Homo sapiens: one gene and its partners. The protein of the gene in region 4 binds, or shares a complex with, the protein of the main gene of each other region. Each region holds a gene or a part of one and is shown on either strand. Other genes may lie near its edges.

Region 1 (7,031 bases), on a different chromosome or scaffold from region 4:
TTTTTTTTGAGAGACGGTGTCTCGCTCTATTGCCCAGGCTGGAGTGCAGTGGCCTGATCTTGGCTCACTGTGACCTCTGCCTCCCGAGTTCAAGCAATTCTTCTGCCTCAGCCTCCTGAGTAGCTGGGATTACAGGCGCCCACCATCACGCCTGGCTAATTTTTGTATTTTTACTAGAGACAGAGTTTCGCTGTGTTGGCCAGGCTGGTCTCTAACACTGGCCTCATGTGATTCACCCACCTTGGCTTCCCAAAGTGCTGGGATTACAGGTGTGAGCAACCACGCCCAGCCAATTGCATCAGTTACACACTGGTGGAATGTTCTCTCTCAGTCAGCAATAGTCAAGTGGGGGCGAGTGGGGAAGGGATAAATAGGGCCTATCTGAGCAGGTGGAGCTGAACATAGTTTACAAAAGCATATTTAACATTATACTGTATTGTATATTTTTAATCAAAAAATATGATTGCTTTTGTAATACAGGGTCATTTTTTATCTAAGGATAATTGGTACCAGAAAAAATCTACAGAAAGAAAACCTGCTGAAGGTGGACCAAAATTTAGAAGGTTTTGAGTGGGATGCTGTCTAAAAATAAAATAAAATAAAATGCAAGAAAAACCGTAAATTAAACAAAATTGAGGTCAAAAATTAAAACCAAAATCGAGGTTGTAATTGCAGGTGTGTGCTAATCCTTGATTATATAGTTACAGTTATATGCCATTTCTTGTTATTGAATTGGGAGAGGTTTAACTTTTCCAATGAAATTGTCAGACAACATGAAACAGTATCTTTCCCTTCACATTTGACTTTTGTACCAATCATAAAGAGGGTTTTTCCAAACATATTTGAGGTATTCAGATCATTCTCTCTCTTTTTTAAAAATACATTTTTGGCCCAGTGCGGCGGCTCACGCCTGGAATCCCAGCGCTTTGGGAGGCCGAGGTGGGCAGATCATGAGGTCAGGAGTTCGAGACCAGCTTGACCAACATGGTGAAACCCCTCTCTACTAAAAATACAAAAATTAGCCGGGTGTGGTGGCACACACCTGTAATCCCAGCTACTCGGGAGGCTGAGGCAGGAGAATCGCTTGAGCCCGGGAGGCAGAGGTTGCAGTGAGCCGAGATTGCTGCACTCCAGCCTGGGTGACAGAGTGAGACTCCACCTTAAAAACAAAAAAAAAATATTTTTATTTTTAAAAAATTAAAAAATTTTGGAAATGAGGTCCTTCTCTGTTGCCCAGTCTGGAGTACAGTCATAGCTTACTGCAGCCTCAGGAACTCCTGGGCTCAAGCGATCCTCTCACCTCAGCTTCCCAAGTAGTTGGGACTACAGCACACTCCACCGTGCCTGGCTAAATCATTCTCTTTTGAAACCCCTGCTAAGTTGTCATTCCCATGGGTTTTCTCTTTGTCTCTTGTTCACTGGTCTGCCTCTGCCAGATCTGTATTTGTGGCTTTGCTTCTGATTTGAGCAATTTGCCAGCATCATCTTCCCTGCAAGCAGCTGTGTATGTAACAGTCAGCTGTCAGGAAGACACCGACTGGCAAAAACACAGGCACAGGGAGGCCAGTGTAAGCAGGGAGGGCTGTATGAGTGGTGGGCAGTGATCCAGGGCTTGGCTATTTCACGAATACTTTATGTTATGATGGCTTTTGCTTTCCTGAGCCACCAAGCCTACTCAGATTATAAACACTGAGTACAGAGGAGCCCTTGTATAAAGTATGGTAAGTTATGCCAGACACACTCAGCTTAGCATGGGTTTAAAGCTGGGAATGGCCATCCACAATGTAGCATTACAGGCCAGAGCAGAGAAAGCTGTCAATTTATACTTTGGGGCTATGTGCAGTAGCTCACACCTATAATCCCAGCACTTCGGGGGCCGAGGCAGGAGGACTGCTTGAGCCCAGGAGTTTAAGACCATCCTGGGCAACAAAGCAAAACCTCATCTATTAAAAAAAAAAAAAATTAGCTGGGGGCATGCTGATGTGTGCCTGTAGTCTCAACTACTTGGGAGGCCAAGGCAGGAGGGCAGTGGGCTCGGGAGGTCAAGGCTGCAGTGAGCCGTGATCATGTGACTGCACCTGGCCTAGGAGACAGAACGAGACCCTGCCTCTTTTCTTTTGTTTTTTTTTTTTTTTGAGACAGAGTCTCACTCTGTCACCCAGGCTGGAGTGCAGTGGCGCAATCTCGGCTCACTGCAAGCTCCACCTCCCGGGTTCACGCCATTCTCCTGCCTCAGCCTCTCCGAGTAGCTGGGACTACAGGCACCCGCCACCACGCCTGGCTCATTTTTTATATTTTTAGTAGAGATGGGGTTTCTCCGTGTTAGCCAGGACGGTCTCGATCACCTGACCCTCATGATCCGCCGGTCTCAGCCTCCCAAAGTGCTGGGATTACAGGCGTGAGGCACCGTGCCCAGCCGACCCTGTCTCAAAAAAAAAACAAAAAAAACAAAAAAAACCAACTTTGGCAGTTGAAGCAGTAGTTGTGCTTGCTTGGGTCATCATGCTTGTCACACCATACAGTGAGTATCTGTTTGCTTGTCTTTTTCCCAAATGAATGTGAGGTGGTTGAGGAGAAGTACTGCCCCTCATTCATCTCTGGATCCCAGGGTCCTGCAGAACCCCCTTGCAAACTGTTTCAAAATGTAATGGATTCTTTAAAGTGGCAGGTGTGAAATGGCGGAGCAGGTGCTCATTAAGACCTTCAGCATAAAGGTGCTATTAGAAAACCACCCTGTCAGTTCATGTACTCTGTGTTTTGATTTTTGAGTATTTCCAGAGATTAGCACAATTGGTTTGAGCTGGCTACATAAGAGTTCTGAAGTATGAGTTTGATTCTTAGAGAGACGCAGTTAGCTTTTTTATAGTCTATCAACAACTGTCAACATTTCTTTTTTTTTTTGAGACGGAGTCTTACTCTCATTGCCCAGGCTGGAGTGCAGTGGCGTGATCTTGGCTCACTGCAACCTCTGCCTCCTAGATTCAAGTGATTTTCCTGCCTCAGACTCCCGAGTAGCTGGGATTACAGGCACTCGCCATCATGTCCAGCTAATTTTTGTATTTTTAGTAGAGACAGGGTTTTAACATGTTGGCCAGGCTGGTCTCGAACTCCTGACCTCAAGTGACCCACCCGCCTCGGCCTCTCAAAGTGTTGGGATTACAGATGTGAGCCACCACGCCCGGTCAACTGTCACATTTCTAACTCCAGGAAGCTGTTCACCAACTTTCCGTTATCACCCACAAGTTAGCGCAGGTGAAGACTGTAGATCCGCCGTGTCAGTCAGGGCTCTGCTAATCCATCATGTTTGTGTCATTCATGATTGGTCTGTAGTATGGAAAGAACAACAAACCTTGAAGAAATATTTTGAAAGATTGGCTTTTTGTGTGTGTGTGTGTGTTTTTTTTTTTTTTTCTTGAGAGAAGGTCTTACTCTGTCACCCAGGCTGGAGTATAGTGGTACTATCACGGCTCACTGCAACCTCCACTTCCCAGGCTCAGGTGATCTTCGCTCCTCCGCCTCCTGGGTAGCTGGAACCACAGGCATGCGCCACCACCATGCCTGGCTAATTTTTTGTATTTTTAGTAGAGACGGGGTTTCTCCATGTTGCCCAGGCTGGTCTTGAACTCCTGGGCTCAAGTGATCCCCCCACCTCGGCCTCCTAAAGTGCTATGATTACAGGTGTGAACCACTGTGCCTGGCCACGATTTTTTATTTCCTACAAAGTATATTAACTCAGCAGCTGAAGGGCCAGAAATGGTTGTTCAAGATACTGGAGATGAGTAAGTCATGGTTCTCCGGGGATGGTACCAATTAATACACAGGCCATAGCAGTACAGCCTTAGAGGCAACTGGACTGAAGAGGGGCCTTGTGTGACCAGCTGGGAAGTTTGGATGCCTCCCTGAAGTCCAGCCATTGTGGAGCTGTGCACAGAGGAGTGCCATGTTCACAGCCCCTTGGGCTGACGGGGGCAGAGTGACAGCAACAGAGCCTCCCCGTGGCGACCTCCAGGGTCCGGTCAAGGGGTATCAGGACCTGAGCAAGAACAGTTGCTGGGGAACCAGGAGGCGGAAGTGGCAGGAGGTGGGATGGGCTCTGAAGGCCGTGCCTGGTGGCCTTCTCCCGTGTGCCTTTGTTGGGGGGAAGTGCTGTGAATTGAACTGACTTATGGCTTGGTGGAGTGGACACACTCACACGTGAACCTTCCAATTCCAGCAATCAGGCCTCATGGAGGAAAGCTAATCTCACCTGCAAAATTGCAATCGACAATCTAGAGAAAGCAGAACTTCTTCAGGGAGGAGATCTCTTAAGGCAAAGGTACCTATTCTTTTATTTTTCTGGGCTCCGATAATAATAGATAACAATTGGCAAGGTGTAGGAAACCCCCTCTTGTTTTCAGCTTGGTGCTTAATTTAATTACATAAGTAATTTTTTTAAGTTTGAAAAAAATGCATACTTATTTGTAGTAAATTGGTAAAATAAAGTATGAATTACAAAATTAAAATATTGAATTTTTTTTTTTTTCTGAGATGAAGTCTCACTCTTGTAGCCCAGGCTGGAGTGCAGTGGTGCCCTCTTGGCTCACCGCAACCTCCGCCTCCTGGGTTCAAGTGATTCTCCTGCCTCAGCCTCCAAAGTATCTGGGATTACAGTTGCGTGCCACTGCACCCAGCTAATTTTTTGTATTTTTAGTAGAGACGGGGTTTAACCACGTTGGCCAGGCTGGTCTTGAACTCCTGACTTCTGGTGATCCACCCACCCCAGCCTCCCAAAGTGCTAGGATTATAGGCGTGAGCCACCATGCCCGGCCGAAAATATCAAATCTTATTACTCATGAACATTTTGGTATATTCTCTCCCTCATTTTTATTTCTACATTTCTTACAAAGTCAAAATTGTACCATACATAAAATTTCATATTCTGCTGTTTCAGCACAAAAGTTGTTCATTAAAAAAAAAAAAAAAGCTTTTTAAGCCTAATTCTAACAGTACATAGTATGTAGATTGTATGTTAATACAATTCCCTGTGTGTGTTTGCATTTCTAGTGTTTAAGTAGTGTAAGTAATACACCAGGGCATGTCTTAGAACATAAGGCTTTATCCACATTTTGGATGTTTCCTTTGGAGGGATTTCCAGGGATGAGATGATTGAGTCAAAGGAATGAACATTACCAAGGCTCTTCAATTGGCAAATTGCTTTACAGAAGGCAGCACTGGTTTATGTTCCTACTAGCAGTCCACAGGGGCGTGGGTCTCAGCACACCCTTTCCAGCATTGAATGTGATCATTTAAAATATGTATACTAATTGGATAGGTAAAACATGAGATCTCATTTGGATGTGGGGCCTTCTTGCAGGGAGGCTTTTGTTGACATTCCTCCCCTTTCTCTTCCTCTGAACTTTTAGGAAAACCACCAAAGAGAGCCTGGCCCAGACATCCAGTACCATCACTGAGAGCCTCATGGGGATCAGCAGGATGATGGCCCAGCAGGTCCAGCAGAGCGAGGAGGCCATGCAGTCTCTAGGTAAAGCTGGGCCTGGAGTAGGAAGCTTCTCCCAGAGACGCTGCTCTAGGGCCCTTGCCCTGGCACCTCCACTCTGGGCTCCTCCACCACAGCCCACACGATGTTCACTGACTTGGGTGGCTTCTCCCTCATGAGATGACTTGACACCATGGTCTTATCCAGTGTGGGATGTGCTGCTCCTATTTCTCTTTTTTTTTTTTGAGATGGAGTTTCGCTCTTGTTGCCCAGGTTGGAGTGCAATGGTGCGATCTCAGCTCACCGCAACCTCTGCCTCCTGGTTTCAAGCGATTCTCCTGCCTTAGCCTCCCAAGTAGCTGGGATTACCGGCCTGCACCACCACACCCGGCTAATTTTGTATTTTTAGTAGAGACGGGGTTTCTCCATGTTGGTCAGGCTGGTCTTGAACTCCCAACCTCAGGTGATCCGCCTGCCTCAGCCTCCCAAAGTGCTGGGATTATAGGCGTGAGATGCCACGCCCGGCCCGTATTTCTGTTTACTAGAAGACCCCACACCCCCATCGATGTTTCCTCAGGGGGAGCATTCCCATGTGTTCATGTGAAAGGCAGAGGTCCCAGCCCCTCTCCTAGAGAGGGTGTCGGCAGGGCTGGGTGAGGGGCCTGGAGTCTGATTTTCAGTGAGGGCTCTGGGGACCCATATGGCCAGGCAAGTTTGGGAATGGTTGCTCCAAGAGATGTTTGGCGAATCAGCTGCTGGTAGGACTGCTAGGACCTCAGTTTACAATTATACTCCCCAACGTTATTTTTCCTATGAGTTCCTTTTAAAAGATGTGAATCAGAGGCTACAGGAGAGACTGCTTGAGACCATCTGGTTTCCTCCAATAGTTTTCCCAGAGTGTCTCCTCTGTGATGGAGAAGAGTATCAGCCCTCTCCAGGGTCCTTCAGTATAAGACAACAGAAAAAGGGCGTTTACTCCTTGAAACGCTTTTGGAAAATTGCACACGTGGACAAAAGGAGAAAGCATGGTATCCTGAATCCCCTGAGCCCTGAGTCCATTACCCCAGCCAGTCTCGTTTCAGTTCTACCCTCAGCCCATCCCCCATCTGGATTATTTTGAAGCAAATCCCAGACATCATCCATAAATATCTCAGTACATCTCTCTAAAAGATAAGGGACTCTTTGGGGAAAAAGCAGAAGCAACCCCATAACTACAATACCATGATCACCCCTAGAAATTATAATTTTGGACCACTGTTTTTTCAGTGCACCAAATAGGCAGAAGCAAAAGGAAAGCAAGCAGGTGACCCCAAGGTCACTCCTTGAGTTTGCAGCTTACCTGAACATCTGGGCTCGGAACCAGCCAGGGGCTTCCTCTCAGCGTGTGCTGTGGGAGAGGCCTTGGAGAGAGAGGGAGCAAGGCGACAACTTGGCCTCTGAGCCCAGGGCTTTTATGCTCTGGTGTGGCGACAGCATACCCCCCGCTAACAGTGGGAAGGAAACACAAATGCTGGTGGCTTCTGGGGTGTTGAGAGGGTCCCGGTGTTCTTGGGGC
Region 2 (7,834 bases), on a different chromosome or scaffold from region 4:
AAGAATGATGCAGAAGCAATCAGCCTGTTGTTGGAAGGTAGGGACTGCAATAAAATTGCAGTTTCAATGCAATTTTATTCAACTTAATATAACCTCTACAACAATTCAGTGAGATGGAAATCTGGCATCAGGCATATATTTGAGGAATGGAATGGAAGAATAGAAATTGAACCAGATAAAACGCATCCTAGAAGTAACAGCAAATGCTTCAAGGAAGGCACTTACCAAAAGGCATACTATAACTTATTACATTTCATTAAGTCTGACAACCAGGGCTAAACCTGAATTAGAATATGTGCTTCTGGTATTTACCAGACTTTTCTCTATAAGGAATCCAGGCCAAACAAAATAACAGCCAAACTTTTGACATCTAATTGTAGTAAAAGCACAGGACATCCATCACTAGCTCTTCTAGTTAAACTTCCCACAAGAGAAGATGGGGAGTGGGGAACGGTTGCAAGAACAGGAGATAATACACAAAGCAATGACAACATAAAATCAAAATTGCTTAAAAGAATGTATGTTTCCTCTACGTCAGGGGGACAGTGTCCCTGAACAACACAGCCCATGAACTCACTTAAGGTGATGTGACACCTACTCACATCAATACATAGCAGAACTGCAAGTTGCATTGTCATGCGGTCCAACCCTGTGACATATGCACAAAGCTTTTCTCAAACATCTCTGAAAAGCAGTCATCACTCTGTTTAATCACTTCCAGTGACAGGGAACTCAGCACCCTATGGGACTGTTACTGTCCCTGAGGCCCATTAACTCAAAACTCAAACACATTTTCACCACTCAGGGAGAGGTGGAAGTGATCACAGGGCTCTCCAAAGGGCTTGCCAACCCAACTGTGCCTCCTGTCTCTACCATTCCCAAATCCCCCCTTTCCCTGAGCAGGACTCAAAATTAGCACAGTGTTAATAAATCAGTGGTTTCAGAGTTAGAAGGGACCCTTAAAAAGCCAATACTGTGATATTCATACCACAGTTCTACAAAAGGAATCTCAAGAAGTGCTTGGGCCAAACTGGGAGGGAGAGTGTCCTGTTTCTCTTCCTCTTATTTCAACCTAGGAAGCTCCCACTTTAATTTGTTACATATAGAGGACCAAGGTAGTTTTTTAAAAGGAGGAGGAGAAAAAAAGGACCATTTACAGGTAAATAAACTGAGGTCTTAAAACTTGCTTAATGAAATCATATAGCTAATAGTTGCAGGGTTCAGACAACAACCTCGTCTCTTGGCTCCTTCTCTGGTGCTTTCTCTACCAGATAACATCTGACCATCTACAGGGCAAAATTCAAACTCTGCAATGATACACAAAGCCCTTTAAGATCTCCGCGTCCAATTTTTATGAGAGTCCCACATTCCAGTCTCACTCAAATGTTTATTGAACCAACTTATGTCAGACTGTTACCTACCTCCACAGCTTAGCGCATACTATTCTCTTAGCCTGAGATGTCCTTCTGCACTGGAACCAACTAATCCTCTTTCAAGATTTGTTTTAGGCATCATCGCCTCTATAAAGCCTTTTCTGGTCCTCAGGTAGAACTGACCACATTCTTTTTGTGCCCTACACAACACCTGCAAGGCTTTATGGCACTTGTTTTATGTCTATGTCCGTCTACTCCACCACTGCTTTTACATCATATTACTCTAACACGAGGCTGGTCAGAAGGTAGGTGCTTCATAGACGGTCATCAATAGGGCGAGTGTATTCATCTGGTCCAATCCCCTTTCTAATGTTTAAGTATCCTCTGCTAACTGTCATTAATGCATGCATGACTACATTCATTCAAAAATATCTGAGTGTCTATACAGTGCCAAGTGTATGCCAAGCAGAGAAGGATTTACTGTGAAATTAATGAGGCTTAAGCTTTAGGGTCCCTCTCTTCAATCTTCCAAAGCTCTGAATCTTTCTTGGTGATTTTTATTTCTTGAAGAGGGCAGACAGAACTATATAAGCTGTAGGCCCCACAAAACCTAGATACCTCCTTGGTGTCACGAACACAAAAGGGAACAAGACAAACAGCTCTCCCCTTATGGAGTTTTCTGTTTAATGGGAAAGACAGCCATTTGTTCATTCACTCATTCAACAAACATTTACTAAGCAATGCTATGAGTCATGCATTCTGAGATGAAAACAACACTGTCCCTGCCCTTAAGGAAAAGGTTCCTGTTCCCAGGGAGATGAAGGGACACCTGCTCTGATCAGGGAACAGAAAGTAGTTGAGGTGACTGTAACACTGTGTTTGCGAAAGATTACCCTAAACCCGTCTCAAGAGGAACTGAGTCCTACTTATTGCAGAGACAAAGGGAAGAAAGAGTTCGGCTGAATACAGTTTTTAATCTCAACTAGGGGTGGGAGGCAGACAAGTAAATAGAACAGGCAAATATGGTGTGGTCAGTGCTGCAACAGGAAGCGAAGGACTGTCAGGAGGTTTCCCCTGAGTGCAAGTCTGTAGTGACGGCGAACTCATGACCTCACAAAGCCGCCCATGCACTTTCCAGATAGAGATTTCTGAGGATCTCCTTTCTTGTCCCCCAATCCCTGTCGCCGCAGGAGAAATCTGTTCCCCAATATGCGTCCCCCTTCCTCAAAATAAGGCTGTTCCTTCCCCCAAAAAGCTGTAGGGTCTCTGAGGCCAACTCTTCTGTCCCCCTTAGAGCCACCCCCTTCACACAATGCTTACGGGACGGGGTCTGGTTTGGGGCCCGGGGTCCCTGTCGCAGGACTGCCCCCTCCTCAACCCGCCGTTTCCATAGCAACCAGCTCACCACTTCGCGGGCCCGGCTGGAGAAGTCGCCCTTGGGCCGGGGGCTCCGGCGGAACAGCTCGTCCCGGCTGCCATCGACCCCGCCGCCCACCGCCACTCCCAGCGCCTTGTTCCGCGTCTTCACGGTCTTGACGCTGGCCCGGAATAGCAGCGTGATGTCCACCGCCATAGCGACCCGCACCCTCAGCCCCACACTAGGCCCGCCCACGTAAGCAGCCGGCGACCGCGGCGCGAACCCGGCCGCTGAAGGACTGGTCCTGCCCCACACGCCTCCCCCCGGCAACGGCGACGCGAGAAGAAAGGTTCCGGCCTGCGCCCTGCTACCGCGGCGGGAGGAAAAAGGTTCCGGCCTCAGCCGGCGCACCTGGCGGAGGAGGAACCTCGCGACGCGCTCTCGGGCATCGGTTTCTCCCAGCAAAGCTTGGAGGGTTTAGCTGCGCGGAGAGCTCAGCGAGCTCTTCTGTGTCTGTTTGGGGCGTGTGGGCTCCGGGAGCGTGAGGACCGGGAAGCTAGGAGGCTCCTTCCCTTCTGGCGGCTCCCTCACTGAGACCGGGCGGTTTGGTTGCGGGGGAAGTGGAGACGAGCCACCCTTGACCTTTGACTGCAAGAACTCACCTTGAGCAGGATAGAGGCACGTGGACGGTGACCCTCGGGATGCAATAAATGCTGAGACAGATCAGGTGTGCAAGGCACAGAGCTAGAGGCCAGAGGCCTTTCTTCTCCAACCTTCAGTCACCTCTTTTTAAAGTGAAGCCAGCATCCTCCTCGGGGTTTACTGTGAAAATTAAGTGAGCTGACGCGTGCTGTGTTTTGATGTTGCTTGGCTCCTAGTAAGTGGCCAATAAATGGTAGTAATCGTTAATAATGTTATTATTATAATCACTGTTATTTGTGGTAAAGGAAGAGGCTTTAGAGAAAAGGCGTCACCTGTGCAGAGATTTGAAGGATGAATAGGAAGTTTAGATGGAGACAAAGGTGAAAGAGTGGCCCTAATGCCGCTGGATTCTCTTCATCCTTCATGCATAGTTTTTAATTGTACCGTCTTGAGCCATAGCTATTAAAATTGACAACTCAATCAATGAGTTTCTTCTGCATTTTAGGTTCATGTTCTGTTTTGTGTTGTTTTTTGAGACGGGGGTCTACTATGTTGCCCAGGCTGGATTGCAGTGGCTAGTCAGAGGCGCCATCCTAGCTCACTACAGCTGGAACGCCAGGGCTCAAACGATCCTCCCGGACTCAGCCTCCTGAGTAGCTGGGACTATAGGCACGTGCAACCGTGCCTGGCCTATGGTTCAGTTTTAATTCAAAATCTCATTGATTTCTTCAAGATTTCTTTTTTCATAAAGAGGAAGCACAAGTAGAATATGTATTAAAACAGCAGTTTTAATGGTCATCAAGATAAAATTTTCACAATACTAAGATGTTATTTGCCTTTTCGCTCTGATTTTCTTATGAGTTGCATACAGTTGAGTTTGCTGGAGACTGTGATATTGCAACGGAGTAAATGCAGAACAGCTGTTTTCTATTAAGCCAGACTCCAAAAAAAGACTTTCAAAAACATCAAGTTTTTGTTTTGATTTCTCATATAGTAAATGTCGATAATGTCAATATAAACCAAAATTGTTTAGAGCCCTTAATAATTTTTAAGTGTGCAAAAGAGTTGAGACCAAAAGTTTGAGAACCACTGTGTTAAAAAAATAAAGTTTATCAGAAATAGATGTCAAGAAAGTATATATTTACCAGAAAGGAGGAAGGAAAAGATTTTTTTTTTCTTTGAGGCGGAGTCTTGCTCTGTCGCCCAGGCTGGAGCAAGCTCCGCCTCCCGGGTTCACGCCATTCTCCTGCCTCAGTCTCCCGAGTAGCTGGGACTACAGGCGCCCACCGCCACGCCTGGCTAATTCTTTTGTATTTTTAGTAGAGATGGGGTTTCACCGTGTTAGCCAGGATGGTCTCGATCTCCTGACCTCGTGATCCGCCTGCCTCAGCCTCCCAAAATGCTGGGATTACAGGCGTGAGCCACCGCGCCCGGCCAGGAAAAGATTATTTAAACCCAAACTGTAGCCACTTCTTGCAGTTTAAGGAAAATAAATTTCCATACAGCTTTCTTCCACCTACTGAGGAAAAGAGAAAGAAATTACAAAATCTCTGCCAATGATTCTATCTTGCATAAATGGCCCTTTGTTTAATCCAGACATTAATCAGTTTTTGGCCATGCAAAGTTAAGCCTGGGGTAGAGTAGAAGGAAAGAGAGATTGCCCTGCATAATAAAGTGAGGGGGATTGAATTGGGGGGAAGAAAAGAGAAGCCAGAACCCAGGGAGGGGGCCGGGAAAGTACAAAGTAGGTAACTGGGAAGGATCTTTGAGTGGGAGGGAGGCTGAACTACACCAAGCCTTCAGTGAGTGGTGCCTTGTGTAAACCGTGTGTTTGGTGCAGTTGGATATTTTGGGTAGAAGGGTAGGGACAAAGATCTAAGTTTTCTGTCTGGATTTGCAAGAGCAGAGAAGATTGTGGTGGATATAAGACCCAAGTGAGCTCAAAACATCAGGCTGTAAATCCACAAGTGACCACAAGTACATAAAATTCCTAAATAAGTCACAAAGATCTTGAGGAGGCTGCTGAACTTTCCACAGACCATGGGATATGGGGTTGTGCTTTTTACATTTTGTGTTTACTCTTTAATTTAAAAGAGCAAAGTGACTTCAGTTGACAGTTGACTAATATTAAGCCCCATAAAGCTGAGAGGGGATGTGGGTTAAAAGGATGTGCAGAAATGTTGTGAGAGTATACTACTGCAACTCCAGGGCTCAAACAATCCTCCCGGCTCAGCCTCCTGAGTATCTGGGACTATAGGCGCGTGCCACCATGCCTGGCCTGTTGGAGGTAGCACACAACTGCCCAGTTGGATGTAGTATACAAATTTTGTTTTCTTTATGCATTCAGCAAACATTGAGTGGGCCAGACACTGTTCTGAAAAATACGCAGTCGACTTTTGAACAGCACAGGCTTGAACTGCATGCGGCCACTAATACTCGGACTTCCTTCTGCCTCTGCCATCCCTAAGACAGCAAGACCCACCCCTCCTGCTCCTCAGCCTACTCGATGTGATGATGGTGAGTATGAAGACCTTTACTTTATGATGATCCACTTCCATTTAATGGATAGTAAATATATTTTCTCTTCCTATGATTTTCTTAATACCATTTTCTTTTCTCTAGCTTACTTTATTGAAAGAATACAGTATCTAATACATATGACATGCAAAATATGTGTTAACGGACTGTTTATGTTATTGATAAGGATTCTGGTCAACAGTAGGCTATTATTAGTTAAGATGTTAGGGAGTCAGAAGTTATACACAAATTTCCAACTGTGAGGGGTGGAGGAGTCATCAAGGATCAACTGTATTGGCACCCCTAAATATAGCTCACTACAGCAGCAACACCTATGCAAGGAGACTAGATGTAGGCTGCCAGTGAAAACCAACGTGTAATTTCTGGGCAGCAAATTTAAGAGCTAATGTATGATTCACGATGCTCTTTTCCCTCTGCTATGACAACCCTTAATGTTCCAATGTTCCATCAGCCTGAGTCCTTAAGTAAAGATGACATGGAGCATAGCCAACCAAGGACATTGTATTAGTCAGAGTTCTCTAGAGGGACAGAACTAATAGGATAGGTGTATATATAAAGGGGAGCTTATTAAGGAGTATTGACTCACATGATCACAAGGTGAGGTCCCACAATAGGCCATCTGCAAGCTGAGGAGCAAGGAGAGACAGTCCAAGTCCCAAAGCTGAAGAACTTGGAGTCTGATGTTCCAGGGCAGGAAGCATCCAGCACGGGAGAAAGATGTAGGCCAGAAGACTAAGCCAGTCTAGTCTTTCCATGTTCTTCTGCCTGCTTTTCTTCTGGCCATGCTGGCAGCTGATTAGATTGTACCCACCTAGATTGAGAGTGGGTCTGCCTTTCCCAGTTCACTGACTCAAACGTTAATCTCCTTTGGCAACACCCTCACAGACACACCCAGGAACAATACTTTGCATCCTTCAGTCAAGTTGACACTCAATATTAACCATCACAGACATGTACTAAGATTGAGAATTGTCCACAGATTTGTGGGTGTTTGTTAACTGCAGCATAATTAGCCTGTCCTGATTGATGACAACCCATATCTAGGTATCTACCAAAACAGGAATATTAGATGTATTCTCCACTCACCATCGTAACAGTATTATTCCTCAGTGAATGAAGCATGGAGAGGAAAGAACAGTTGTGCCTAAACCTAACCAATGGAAAAGACCAGGCTGGCAGGGACAGAGTGGCAGAAACCTTGGAAGACTGTGACCATGGCAGGGTAGAATTTATAACACAAGAGGAAAGGCCTTCAAAAACATATACCTTCACGTTAGGAGGTAAACTCAATGAAATTCATTGAAAACCATTTTTCCCCCCTCAGGGACTCTGGAAAGGACCCTGACTCTAGGGGTGGGAAGCTCAAAGAAGAAGCTTTTGTTCCCAAGAGGGAACCTAGATAAAGAATTCAGGGTGGATTTCTCTTGTTTTTTTTTTTCTTTTTTTTTTCTTTCTTTCTTTTTTTTTATTTTTTTATTTTTGAGATGGAGTTTTGCTCTTGTTGCCCAGGCTAGAGTGCAATGGCGTGATCTCAGCTCACTGCAACCTCCACCTTCTGGGTTCAAGCAATTCTCCTTCTTCAGCCTCCCAAGTAGCTAGGATTACAGACGTCCTCCACCATGCCCAGCTAATTTTTTGGGGGGTGTGTATTTTTAGTAGAGATGGGGTTTCACCGTGTTGGCCAGGCTGGCCTCGAACTCCTGACCTCAGGTGATCCACCCACCTCGGCCTCCCAAAGTGCTGGAATTACAGGCATGAGCCACTGAACTCGGCCCAAGGTGGGTTTCTTCCGGCAGCTCCCCCAGAAGTTTAGCTTTGAAACAGATGTGCAAAAAAAAGCGAGGGAAAGGCAGGAAGCAAACAGGAGGTTGTTGTGGTCCAGCCCTTTGAGGTGTGGCCTTTGTCCCCCCACCGCCCATTGAAG
Region 3 (7,031 bases), on a different chromosome or scaffold from region 4:
AAATAAATAAATACATGCATAAATAAATAAAGTTAAATGTATTTGGCCAGTTGTGATGGCTCACACCTGTAATCCCGGCACTTTGGGAGGCCAAGGTGGACAGGTTACTGGAGGCCAGGAGTCCAAGACCAGCCTGGCCAATGTGGCAAAACTCTGTCTCTACTAAAAATACAAAAAGTAGCCGGGCATGGCGGTGCACACCTGTGGTCCCAGGTACTCGGGAGACTGAGGCATGAGAATCACTTGAACCTAGGAGGTGGAGGTTGCAGTGAGCCAAGATCATGCCACTGCACTCCAGCCTGGGCGACACAGCAAGGCTCTGTCTCAAACACAGAAAAACTAACCCCTGCAATGGCTCCCTATGTCACTCAGAGTAAAAGCTAAAGCCTACCAATGGTCCCAAGAGGTCTCACAGTTCCCCTCTGACCACACCTTGTACAACTCTCTTCCTCATTGATCCCAGCTGCAGTAGTCTCTGCTGTCCTTTAACTCATCAAACATATTGTCACCTGCGGGCCTTTGCCAGGGTCTATGTAGCTAATTTCCTCACCTTCTCCCAAGTGTGATGCCACCTTCTTAATAGGGCCTACCTCCCTCCAAACCTGGCACTCCTGATTAGTTTATCCTGTGTTGACTATCTTTTTTTTTTTTTTTGGCATTTACGACCTTTTTTTTTTTTAACATACTATTTATTATGACTTTTTCACATCTATCTCCCTATTAGGATACACGTTCCACAAGGGCAAGGATTTTGTCTCTTTTGTCCACTGCTATATTCCCATAACTGACTGACTGAATGCTAAGCACCACAGAGGAGGAGCAGATAAAAACTCTTGTAGTAGCAGGAGGCACCAGAGGAACAGAGAGGCCAGCCCATTGTTGGGCCTCTGCCTACATCCCTCCAGTACACCCTGTACTTCTCTATCCCTGTTCATTACTTTCTAGCCACGCAGGCCTTCTTGATTCTTGCTATGGTGAGACTGTCCCATCACAAGGCTTTGCTCTAGCTGTCTCCTCGGCCTAGAACACTCTCTGTTCTTTGCCTGGTTGGATCCCTCTTGTCATTCAAGTCTCTGCTTAAATGTCATGTCTTCAGAGCAGCATTCCCTACCACACAATCTGATATACCTACTTAGTCACTTTCTTTTTTTTTTTTGAGATGGGGTCTTGCTCTGTCACTCAGACTGGAGCGCAGTGGTTCCATCATGGCTCACTGCAGCCTCAACCTCCCATGCTTAAGTCATCCTCCCGCCTCAGCCTCCCGAGTAGCTGGAACCACAGGCACACGCAACCATGTCCAGCTAATTTTTTTATTTTTGTAGAGATGGGGTTTCACCATGTTGCCCAGGCTGGTCTTGAACTCCTGAGTTCAACTGACTGTGTGGGCCTCCCAAAGTGCTGGAATTACAGGTGTAAGCCACCGTACCCATCCATTACTTTCTTAACACATCATCCTATTTTAACTCTGTATACAGCCTTTATTACTCCCTGAAATTTTGTTGGTCAATTTTTTATTTTTATTTTTTTGACACAGAATCTGGCTCTGTCACCCAGGCTGGAGTGCAGTGGCACGATCTTGGCTCACTGCAACCTCTGCCTCCCAGGCTCAAGCCATCCTCCCACCTCAGCCTCTCGAGTAGCTGGGACTACAGGCCCATGCCACCATGCCCAGCTAGTTTTTGTATTTTTTTGTAGAGACAGGGTCTTGCTTTGTTGCCCAAACTGGTCTTGAATTCCTGAACTCAAGCGATCTGCATTGCTCGGCCTCCCAAAGTGCTGCCTATGGGATTACAGGTGTGAGTCACTGTGCCAGCCTTGTCAGTTCTTTTCCACAGCTGTCCTCATCTGCCCTATCAAATTCCATACACTTACACATGCTACAAAGCAGCTCCAGACAGACTTTACTGTTCTACTTGCCACTGTATCTCCCGCACCTGGAACAGTGCCTCACATGAACAGGTGCTCAATAAAAACTTGTTGGGTGGATGGAAGCAGGTGAACTGGGTCCCATGGGTGGGCAGAATTCACTCTATCTTCCAAAAGGCATCAAGCAGTCCCTGGGGACTTTAAGATGCCAATCCACGGGGAAGAGAAAGCTCCTCTGTTTGGGGCGAGAGAGTGTATCTCACCTCTGAATGGTTTCCTCCTGTTCCTTAACCATGTGTGCCAACTGCTGAAAGATGGAGCCCAACTCAACAATTGTCGACTCAATGTTCTGCATGGTGTCTGCCCGACTCTGGATGTAGGAATCCTTCAGGAGAGGGAGAGAGCACATGAGCACCAACAGCTTCTTCAGGGTCAGACCTGCATTTTTACAACCCTCCCAGCTTGCCATTCTGCCCATGGCACACTCCAAACACTCTCTCGGGAACCACAGAGGATAATGGAGAAGCTGATTCTACCTAGTTCAGAGCCTGGGTACCTGCTCGTCAATGAGCTGCAGCTGCTGGCTGGTCCGAGAGTCCATCATGTCGATGGCGACATCCTTGGAGGCATGGGACTCTGCCCCCAGAACCACAGCACCACCGCCTGGGGGAGAAAACAGGATGTGGCACACCTTAACAGTTAAAAGCAGGTTCAAAGCCCACATGCTCTGGGTTTGAATCCCAGCTCTAGCACTTACTAGCCTTGTGACCCTGGACAGGTCATTTAACCTCTCTGAGCCTCAGTTTCCTCACCTGTAAAATGGGGGATAATAATAGTTGCTTTCTCAAAGGGTGGTTGTGAAAATTAAATGAGAGAATGTGAATAAAGTGTACGAAAAAAAATTAGAAATTATCATTATTCTGAATATAACTGAATTCACCCCAACAGTGAGAATGTGGGAGTCTAAATGTGGATCACGAATCTCAACCATCTGGTTTGGCCTCTGAGAGATAAAGCCTAGAAAATTCCTTGACCTTCCACTCTCCTACCCAACCCGTGCCTTTAGAGGATGCCATCACAACCAGAGTAAGTAACCTTACCTCCCAGGGCTCCCCGTTTTACCTGTGACTTACCCAGGTGGTTAGGGGCAAGGGGCAGGGCTGACACAGGTGCCCGGGAGAACTGCTCTCTCCGGCTCCTCTGCTGCTTCAGGTTCTGGGGTTGGGGAAAAACGCAAAGGACCTGAAGCCACTAGAAAGCAGGCATGTTAAAGAGACTCCCACCATTGGCCCCATGACCCTGTAGAACTTGTCCCTTCTTCATTTCCCTCTTGGATCTTTACTCCCATATTCCTACCCCTCCTACGCAGATTGTTCTCACCTCTGTCCTCACTTCTAAAACCGATTTGAAGTCATTGGACATAGAAGCCAGTTTCGACTAGAAGAAAAGGAGAGAGGGTCAACCAAAGAAGGCTCCACATTCTTCCTCTTTGCCTCCCTCCCTTCCTCCCCAGGTCCCACCTGCAAGGAGACCACAATGGTGTTGGAGTGGGTCTGCAGGTGCCGGCCACTCTGGCTGCCCTTGGCTCTCACGAAATCCTGGAGCTGAGCAATTTGTTTGTTGAGGCTATTGATGTCCTGGTAAAAGAGTCCAAGGAAAAACAAAGTATTAGCCAAGGAGTCCTTAGTCAGCATCTCTCACGATGGCCATCTCTGGTAGGAAGGACAAGGTGGAAGTTACTAGCCAGAGTGAGAGTATCTCAGACAGTCAGACCAGATGGGCCTGCTAGGATTTTCCAAGGTCTAGTGTTTGCTCTGGCTCAGTCCCTGCAGAGAAGAGCTACAAAGAGGCAAAATAGGCCTTCATCCATTGTAAATAACTTGTTTACTCCTCCAGCCTACTGCCCTGCTCCATTCTGTGAGGCCATGCTCTTGGCCACAGAACCCTTTCAAAGGCCAAAATCTCGGGTCTAGGGCATGACCAACAAAGCCCCCGGACAGTACTCAGGAAAAGGGAAGAGTCAAAGGCACTGTAGTTTCGAGAGGCATCAACAGAACTATTTTCATACACACAATTCCTCAATGGCTAATGTCTGTAAACCCACCACTTTGAGAGGCCAAGGCAGGCAGATCATGAGGTCAAGAGATTGAGACCATCCTGGCCAACATGGTGAAATGCCATCTCTACTAAAAATACCAAAAATTAGCTGGGTGTGGTGGCGCGCGCCTATAATCCCAGCTACTTGGGATGCTGAGGCAAAAGAATCGTTTTGAACCTGGGAGGTGGAGGTTGCAGTGAGCCTAGATCGCGCCACTGCACTCCAGCCTGGCGACAGAGTGAGACTCCGTCTTAAAAAAAAAAAAAGTTATTATTGGCCTGGCGCGGTGGCTCACGCCTGTAATCCCATCACTTTGGGAGGCTGAGGTGGGCGGATCACCTGAGGTCAGGAGTTTGAGACCAGCCTGACCAACGTGGAGAAACCCTGTCTCTACTAAAAATACAAAATTAGCCGGGCGCGGTGGCACGTGCCTGTAATCCCAGCTATTCGGGAGGCTGAGGCAGGGGAGTCACTTGAACCCAGGAGACAGAGGTTGCAGTGAGCTGAGATCGCGCCACTGTGCTCCAGCCTGAGCAACAAGAGTGAAACTCTGTCTCAAAAAATAATAATAAATAAATAAATAAATAAAATAAAAGTTATTATTACAGTCGAGTGCAGTGGCTCACACCTGTAATCCCAGCACTTTGGGAGGCCAAGGTGGGCGGCTCACTTGAGGTCAGGAGTTCGAGACCAGCCTGGCATACCCCGTCTCTACTAAAGATAAAACAATTAGCCAGTCATTGGTAGCGGGTGCCTATAGTCCCAGCTACTGGGGAGGCTGAGGCAGGAGAATCGCTTGCACCTGGGAGGTGGAGGTTGCAGTGAGCCAAGATCGCACCACTGCACTCCGGCCTGGGTGAAAGAGCAAAACTCTGCCTCAAAAAAAAAAAAAAAAAAAAAATTATCCAGGAATGAGGGCATGTCCCTGTAGTCTCTACCACTCAGGAGGCTCAGGCTGGAGGAAAGCTTGAGGCCAGGAGTTAAGGGCTGCAGTGAGCTAGGTCACACCACTACACTCCAGACTGGTCAACACAGTGAGACCCCCCTCTCTAAAAAAAGAAACTTGCTCTGGGTCCCCATGGCAATGGAAAATGACAGGAAGACAGAAGTGATCTGATTGGAATGCTGGGCTCTCCTGATGGCTAGTAGCTCACCTGTTTGATGATATATGTTAGCTCTTCAATTTCCACTGCTTTATCATCAAAGAGGGACTTGCGCTTTGCCACTACAGAGACAAACAAGAAGCCACAATGGGTGAGGTCAAGGACAAAGCTCAGGGAATATAGTCCTCAACCCTCTTTGATTTACTGCCCCACTTCTGAAAGACCCCAAGAACACTCACAGATTGTCAGCTTCTCCAGCTTGGCAAATGTGTTGCTAAGGTCTTTCCCAATGCGCCTGCAAATGACCACTAGTCAGACTGTGGGAAAGGGCAGGACGCCTTTTCCCACATAAGCTCCAGCATAACCAATCCCAGACTTCACAGCCAAGGCCACTGATTGCAAGTCTACTTTTCTTCAGACACTGTATCACCCCACCAGAAAGCTTCTCTCAACTCACTTGGCCATGAGGGTGAATTCACTGCGTTGTCGGACAGCACGCAAAGCTGGCTTATTTGTCTGGATTCCATTCTGAAAAGCAATGGCAGGAGGTGACAACTTTAGTTCTCCCTTCCCCAGTTCCAGCTTTCACTCTTCCTGAGGTGTCCACTAACCTATCTCTAGTGCTGGTGGCATCCATCAGATGATCTAGATTTATGAGTGGTAGTCGTTTAGAGTCCAGATTTGAAGAGCAGGTAGACCTGAGTTCAAATCTTGACTCACCACTTACTACTAGCTGGTGGATTTGGGGCGAGTTACTTAAAACATTCTAAATCTCTACTTTCTCTTCTATAAAATGAAGACAATCCACACATCTCCTATTGTTGCTAAGGTTAAATAACAAAAAGGCTGAAAAGTACTTCAGTCAACTACCTGGTACATAGTAAGCACTAAATAAATGGTATCTAGTATTGCCATTCTATTCCTCAAATCAGGAAATCAATAAGGATGATTGCAAAGCTCTTGGAGATCATACAGAAGAGCAGCTTTACCATGAGCTGAAAAACACTTCTTTATAACTTTTCTGTTTTTGAGACAGGGTCTCACTCTGTCTCCCAGGTTGGAATATAGTAGCATGATCATAACTTACTGCGGCCTCGACATCCTGGGCTCAAGTGATCCTCCAACTTCAGCCTCCCAAGTAGCTGGGACTACAGGGCACACCACCACACCTAGCTAATTTTTAACTTTTTGTAGAGATAGGGTCTTGCTATATTGCCCAGGCTGGTCTTGAACTCCTAGGCTCACGCAATCCTCCCACCTCAGCCTCCCAAAGTGCTGGGATTACAGGTGCCAGCCAGCATGTCCAGCCATCAGTAAAAATATTTAAAAATACAGTTACTCGGCCGGGTGCAGTGGCTCACGCCTGTAATCCCAGCACTTTGGAAAGCTGAGGCAGGCGGATCACGAGGTCAAGAGATTGAGACCAACCTGGCTAACATGGTGAAACCCCATCTCTACTAAAAATACAAAAATTTAGCCAGGTGTGGTGGCATGCACCTGTAGTCCCAGCTACTCAGCAGGCTGAGGCCGGAGAATCACTTGAACCTGGGAGGTGGAGGCTGCCGTGAGCCAAGATCCCACCACTGCACTCCAGCCTGGGTGACAGAGCGAGACTCCGTCTCAAAATAAATAAATAAATAAATAAACAAACAAACAAACAAATAAATAAATACAGTTACTTGGCCAGGTGCAGTGGCTCACACCTGTAATCCCAGCATTTTGGGAGGCCGAGGCAAGCAGATCACGAGGTCAAGAGACAGAGACCATCCTGGCGAACACAGTGAAACCCCGTCTCTACTAAAAATACAAAAATTAGCTGGGTGTCCTGGCACCGCCTGTATTCCCAGCTACTTGGGAGGCTGAGGCAGGAGAATCACTTAAACCCAGAGGTGGAGGCTGCAGTGAACCCAGATCACGTCACTGCACTCCAGCCTGGCAACAAAGAGAGACTGTCTCAAAAACAA
Region 4 (4,138 bases):
CAGCAGTGAACCAGTGATCCCTGTCCTCATGGAACTTCCCTTCTGGTGTAGACAATCACCATAATAAATAAGTGAATTATTTAGAACATAATAAGCATTAAGGAAAAAAGAGCAGGGGAAGAGGGACTAAGCATGCTGGAGGAGGTAGAGTTGCAGTTGAAAGCAGGTGGAGGAAGCTTCATTCAGAAGGTAACATCTGAACAAGAGACTTAAAGGTGTTTGCTGGGAATGAGCATTCTAGGTAGAAGGAAAAGTGAATGCAAAGGCTTAAGCTGAGAGTGTGCTTTGTCTAGGGAGGGGTAAGGAGACCAGTGTGGATGGGCAGAGGAAGGGAACAGTAAGAGGAAGTAAGATCAGAGAGGTCATGGGAGAAGGAGAGATCATAGAGGGCTAGCCAGGCACCGTGGCTCACGCCTGTAATCCCAGCACTTTGGAGGCTGAGGTGGGAGGATTGGTTGAGCCCAGGAGTTTGAGACCAGCCTGGGCAATATAGTGAGACCCCCCCCCCTTTTTTTTTTTTCCTTTGAGACAGGGTCTCACTCTGTTGCCCAGGCTGGAGTACAGTGGTGCCATCTCTGCTCACTGCAACCTCCGCCTCCTGGGTTCAAGCCATTCTCTTGCTTCAGCCTCCCAAGTAGCTGGGACTACAGGCGCCCACCACTGCACCAAGCTAATTTCTGTACTTTTAGTAGAGATGGGGTTTCACCACGTTGGCCAGGCTGGTCTTGACCTCCTGACCTCAGGTGATCCACCTGCCTCAGCCTCCCAAAGTGCTGGGATCACAGGCATGAGCCACCGTGCCCGGCCAACCCTGTCTCTATTAAAAATAAAAATAGGCCAGGTGCAGTGGCTCACGCCTGTAATGGAGGCCGAGGCAGGTGGATCACAAGGTCAAGAGATCAAGACCATCCTGGCCAACATGGTGAAACCCCATCTCTACTAAAAATACAAAAATTAGCCGTGCGTGGTGGCGCGTGCCTGTAGTCCCAGCTACTCGGGAGGCTGAGGCAAGAGAATTGCTTGAACCCGGGAGGCCAAGGTTGCAGTGAGCCGAGATTGTGCCACTGCACTCCAGCCTGGGCAACAAGAGTGAAACTCTGTCTCAAAAAACAAATAATAAATAAATAAATAAATAAATAAATAAATAAATAAATAAAAAAGATCATGGAGGACCACATAGGCCTGATAAGGGCTTTGGCTTTTAGTCTAAGAGAAATGGGGGAGCCTGTCAAGGTCATCACAAGGTGGTTAAGGTGGCAGATCCCGCATAAGAGCTCATGCTATTTGCTCACTGTACTATGGGGTTGCCGAGGCACCGACCGGGCAGGGATCCTCCCAGGGGCACTCAGCCTATATTCTTCATCTTTAGCATGGGGTCCTGTCCCAGCAATTCGTGGAGCTCATCAACAAGTGCAATTCAATGCAGTCCGAATACCGGGAGAAGAACGTGGAGCGGATTCGGAGGCAGCTGAAGATCAGTGAGTTGTGCATGCCCAGCCTGGCCCGCAGGGGCAGGTAATCCCAACCCAACCCTGAGCCTGGCCTTTTCCTTCACAGCCAATGCTGGGATGGTGTCTGATGAGGAGTTGGAGCAGATGCTGGACAGTGGGCAAAGCGAGGTGTTTGTGTCCAATGTGAGTGGCCACAGCCAGCCCCTCTCTGCTGTGCCTCCCATCCCCTCTGAGTCCTGTCCGTTTCTCGACCTCCTGGGCTCAGGTGATCCTCCTGCCTCAGCCTCCCGAGTAGCTGGGACTATAGGTGCAAGCCACTGCACCCCGCTTGCTGTGGCCCTTTCTGATTAAGGGCACCCTGAGGCCTCTAAGGGAATTAATTAGCCTGCCTGGAGTCACCCATCAGATTCCAGGCTGAGGGCTCCCCAGAAGCTCAACAGGAGTTTCTGACCTGCTGTCGGTCTCCCTGTGAACAGTTGCCCCACTCCTGTCCACCCCCCAGATCCTGAAGGACACGCAGGTGACTCGACAGGCCTTAAATGAGATCTCGGCCCGGCACAGTGAGATCCAGCAGCTTGAACGCAGTATTCGTGAGCTGCACGACATATTCACTTTTCTGGCTACCGAAGTGGAGATGCAGGTGGGTGCCCCGCGCAGCCCCAGACGTGAGACCAGGCTCAGTCCAAACTGCCAGCCTCCCGCCACCCTTAGATTCTCTCCCTGAGGCTTTTGTGTCTTCCAGGTTTGGCCATGCCCCCAGATTGGTGCTTATTCCTATCCTTAGCTGTACCCCGAGAATGGCACCTGCCTCTGCTGCTACACAGATGCCCACTCCCTTCTGCATAGCACCCTGCCCCCTCTCCAAAACTTGAGCCTGCCCAGGTCTGGCCCCAGCCCTCACTCCCCCTCCACTAACAGCATCCACCCTTATACCTCTCAGAGGTCCAGTCAGAGTTGCCCTAGAGGGGCTGCCTCCTAACATCTGTACAAGGCTGGGGTGGGGGCGGCGTTCCCCTGGCCCTGGTTGTGAGTTGAGTTGAGCTTCCAGCCCTGTCCTGGAGGAGCTGGCCTCAGTCATGCTACAGCCAATGCCCTTTTGCAGCTGAGACTTACAGGAAAGAGATCTCATTCAGTAGGAGTACTGAGACCTGAGGCTGGTGGTGCCAGGAGGAGGCAGGGATAGGGAGGGCTTTGCAGCAGCTGTAGATAGGCCTGGAAGAATGGGTAAATTCAGACAGATTTGTGAAGGCACAGTTCACCATCTGTGAAAGGTATGAGCCATTTGAGGCCCTTAGCTCCAAGCTACCACTGCAGATAGAGGTTGTATGGGATAAGTGAGCAGGGGACAAGGGACTACATGATAGAAGGGGCCTGGAAGCCATCCCCAAGGAGTCTGAACTTTTGTCAGATCAAGTCTTGCCCTTGTCTTTGTTAGTGCAATTTTTTTTTCCTGCCAGGAATGTTCTTCAGTCATCTGGGGTGGGGTGGGCAAAGGCATCCTTACCTCCCTGAACCACCCCATCCTCTGAGCAGGGGGAGATGATCAATCGGATTGAGAAGAACATCCTGAGCTCAGCGGACTACGTGGAACGTGGGCAGGAGCACGTCAAGACGGCCCTGGAGAACCAGAAGAAGGCGAGGAAGGTGAGCCTCCCAGGCCCGGCCACTGCCCCAGGCACCCTGTGTGACTTCCCTGACCCCCTCCTCTCCCACAGAAGAAAGTCTTGATTGCCATCTGTGTGTCCATCACCGTCGTCCTCCTAGCAGTCATCATTGGCGTCACAGTGGTTGGATAATGTCGCACATTGTTGGTGAGATGTTGTGGGCTGCCCCCTGGCCTGCCCCAGCCCTGGCCCCAGCCCTCCCTCCTCCCTCAGACCCTGTTCTCCCTCCTTTCCTTACAGGCACTAGGAGCACCAGGAACCCAGGGCCTGGCCTTCTCTCCCAGCAGCCTGGGGGGCAGGGCAGAGCCTCCAGTCGGACCCCTTCCTCACACTGGCCCCTATGCAGAAGGGCAGACAGTTCTTCTGGGGTTGGCAGCTGCTCATTCATGATGGCCTCCTCCTTCAGGCCTCAATGCCTGGGGGAGGCCTGCACTGTCCTGATTGGCCGGGACACACGGTTTTGTAAAAAATTAAAAAACAAAAAAAGAGCATAGAAAGCCCTGTGCACGTGTGTTCCTGGAAGGGCTGGCCCAAGGCTTCCGGGCATCCAACCTCCTTACCTCCTGGACGTCCCCAGGGCCAGGTCTGGCCCTGGCTGCTCAGGTCAAACTGCCAGGGGTGCTGTGCCCACAGCAGGCTGGTTCTGCCTTTCTGCACCCCCATAGGAATGGGTGGGCAGGGAGGGGTAACACCGGCATCTAGCTCCTGGCTCAGTACTGTCCCCGGGAAAGGACCACTGTGAGTATCTGTCTTGGAAATGATGAGGCTGACCAGGCCAGGCTGGGACGCAGGTGAGATGGGGGTTTGGGTGGCATCAGTGGGCCTTCTTGTGGCCCAGAGGAAGAGGCACCATGAAAAAATGCCTAATTGAGGCTGTCACTTTGGATGCAGTGGATAGGGATGGTCTGGTTTCAGCAGGGATGACATTGGAGTGGGATGTTAAGCTGGGGAAGAGGTTGCCAGTCAGAAAGCACAGGAGGCCGGGCCCTGTGACCAACAAAAGCATCATCTTTTACATAAGCG

Evidence for each region.
Region 1: STX4 (region 4) and BNIP1 share a complex: the UniProt entries of both Homo sapiens proteins name them as parts of the SNARE complex.
Region 2: STX4 (region 4) and STX18 share a complex: the UniProt entries of both Homo sapiens proteins name them as parts of the SNARE complex.
Region 3: STX4 (region 4) and STX5 share a complex: the UniProt entries of both Homo sapiens proteins name them as parts of the SNARE complex.

What each region holds. Positions count from the first base shown.
Region 1 is NC_000005.10:173,154,531-173,161,561, forward strand, and holds part of BNIP1 (vesicle transport protein SEC20), read left to right. Parts: intron 1-4,213; coding exon 4,214-4,315; intron 4,316-5,402; coding exon 5,403-5,521; intron 5,522-7,031. UniProt on the Homo sapiens protein: As part of a SNARE complex may be involved in endoplasmic reticulum membranes fusion and be required for the maintenance of endoplasmic reticulum organization. Also plays a role in apoptosis.
Region 2 is NC_000004.12:4,539,019-4,546,852, forward strand, and holds the start of STX18 (syntaxin-18), read right to left. Parts: upstream 3,031-7,834; 5' UTR 2,947-3,030; coding exon 2,779-2,946; intron 1-2,778. UniProt on the Homo sapiens protein: Syntaxin that may be involved in targeting and fusion of Golgi-derived retrograde transport vesicles with the ER.
Region 3 is NC_000011.10:62,822,037-62,829,067, forward strand, and holds part of STX5 (syntaxin-5), read right to left. Parts: intron 5,596-7,031; coding exon 5,525-5,595; intron 5,363-5,524; coding exon 5,307-5,362; intron 5,190-5,306; coding exon 5,119-5,189; intron 3,504-5,118; coding exon 3,387-3,503; intron 3,304-3,386; coding exon 3,247-3,303; intron 3,082-3,246; coding exon 3,000-3,081; intron 2,530-2,999; coding exon 2,423-2,529; intron 2,252-2,422; coding exon 2,130-2,251; intron 1-2,129. UniProt on the Homo sapiens protein: Mediates endoplasmic reticulum to Golgi transport.
Region 4 is NC_000016.10:31,036,557-31,040,694, forward strand, and holds the end of STX4 (syntaxin-4), read left to right. Parts: intron 1-1,369; coding exon 1,370-1,478; intron 1,479-1,557; coding exon 1,558-1,634; exon of another isoform or gene 1,635-1,637; intron 1,638-1,953; coding exon 1,954-2,091; intron 2,092-2,984; coding exon 2,985-3,095; intron 3,096-3,166; coding exon 3,167-3,247; 3' UTR 3,248-3,262; intron 3,263-3,355; 3' UTR 3,356-3,608; downstream 3,609-4,138. UniProt on the Homo sapiens protein: Plasma membrane t-SNARE that mediates docking of transport vesicles. Necessary for the translocation of SLC2A4 from intracellular vesicles to the plasma membrane.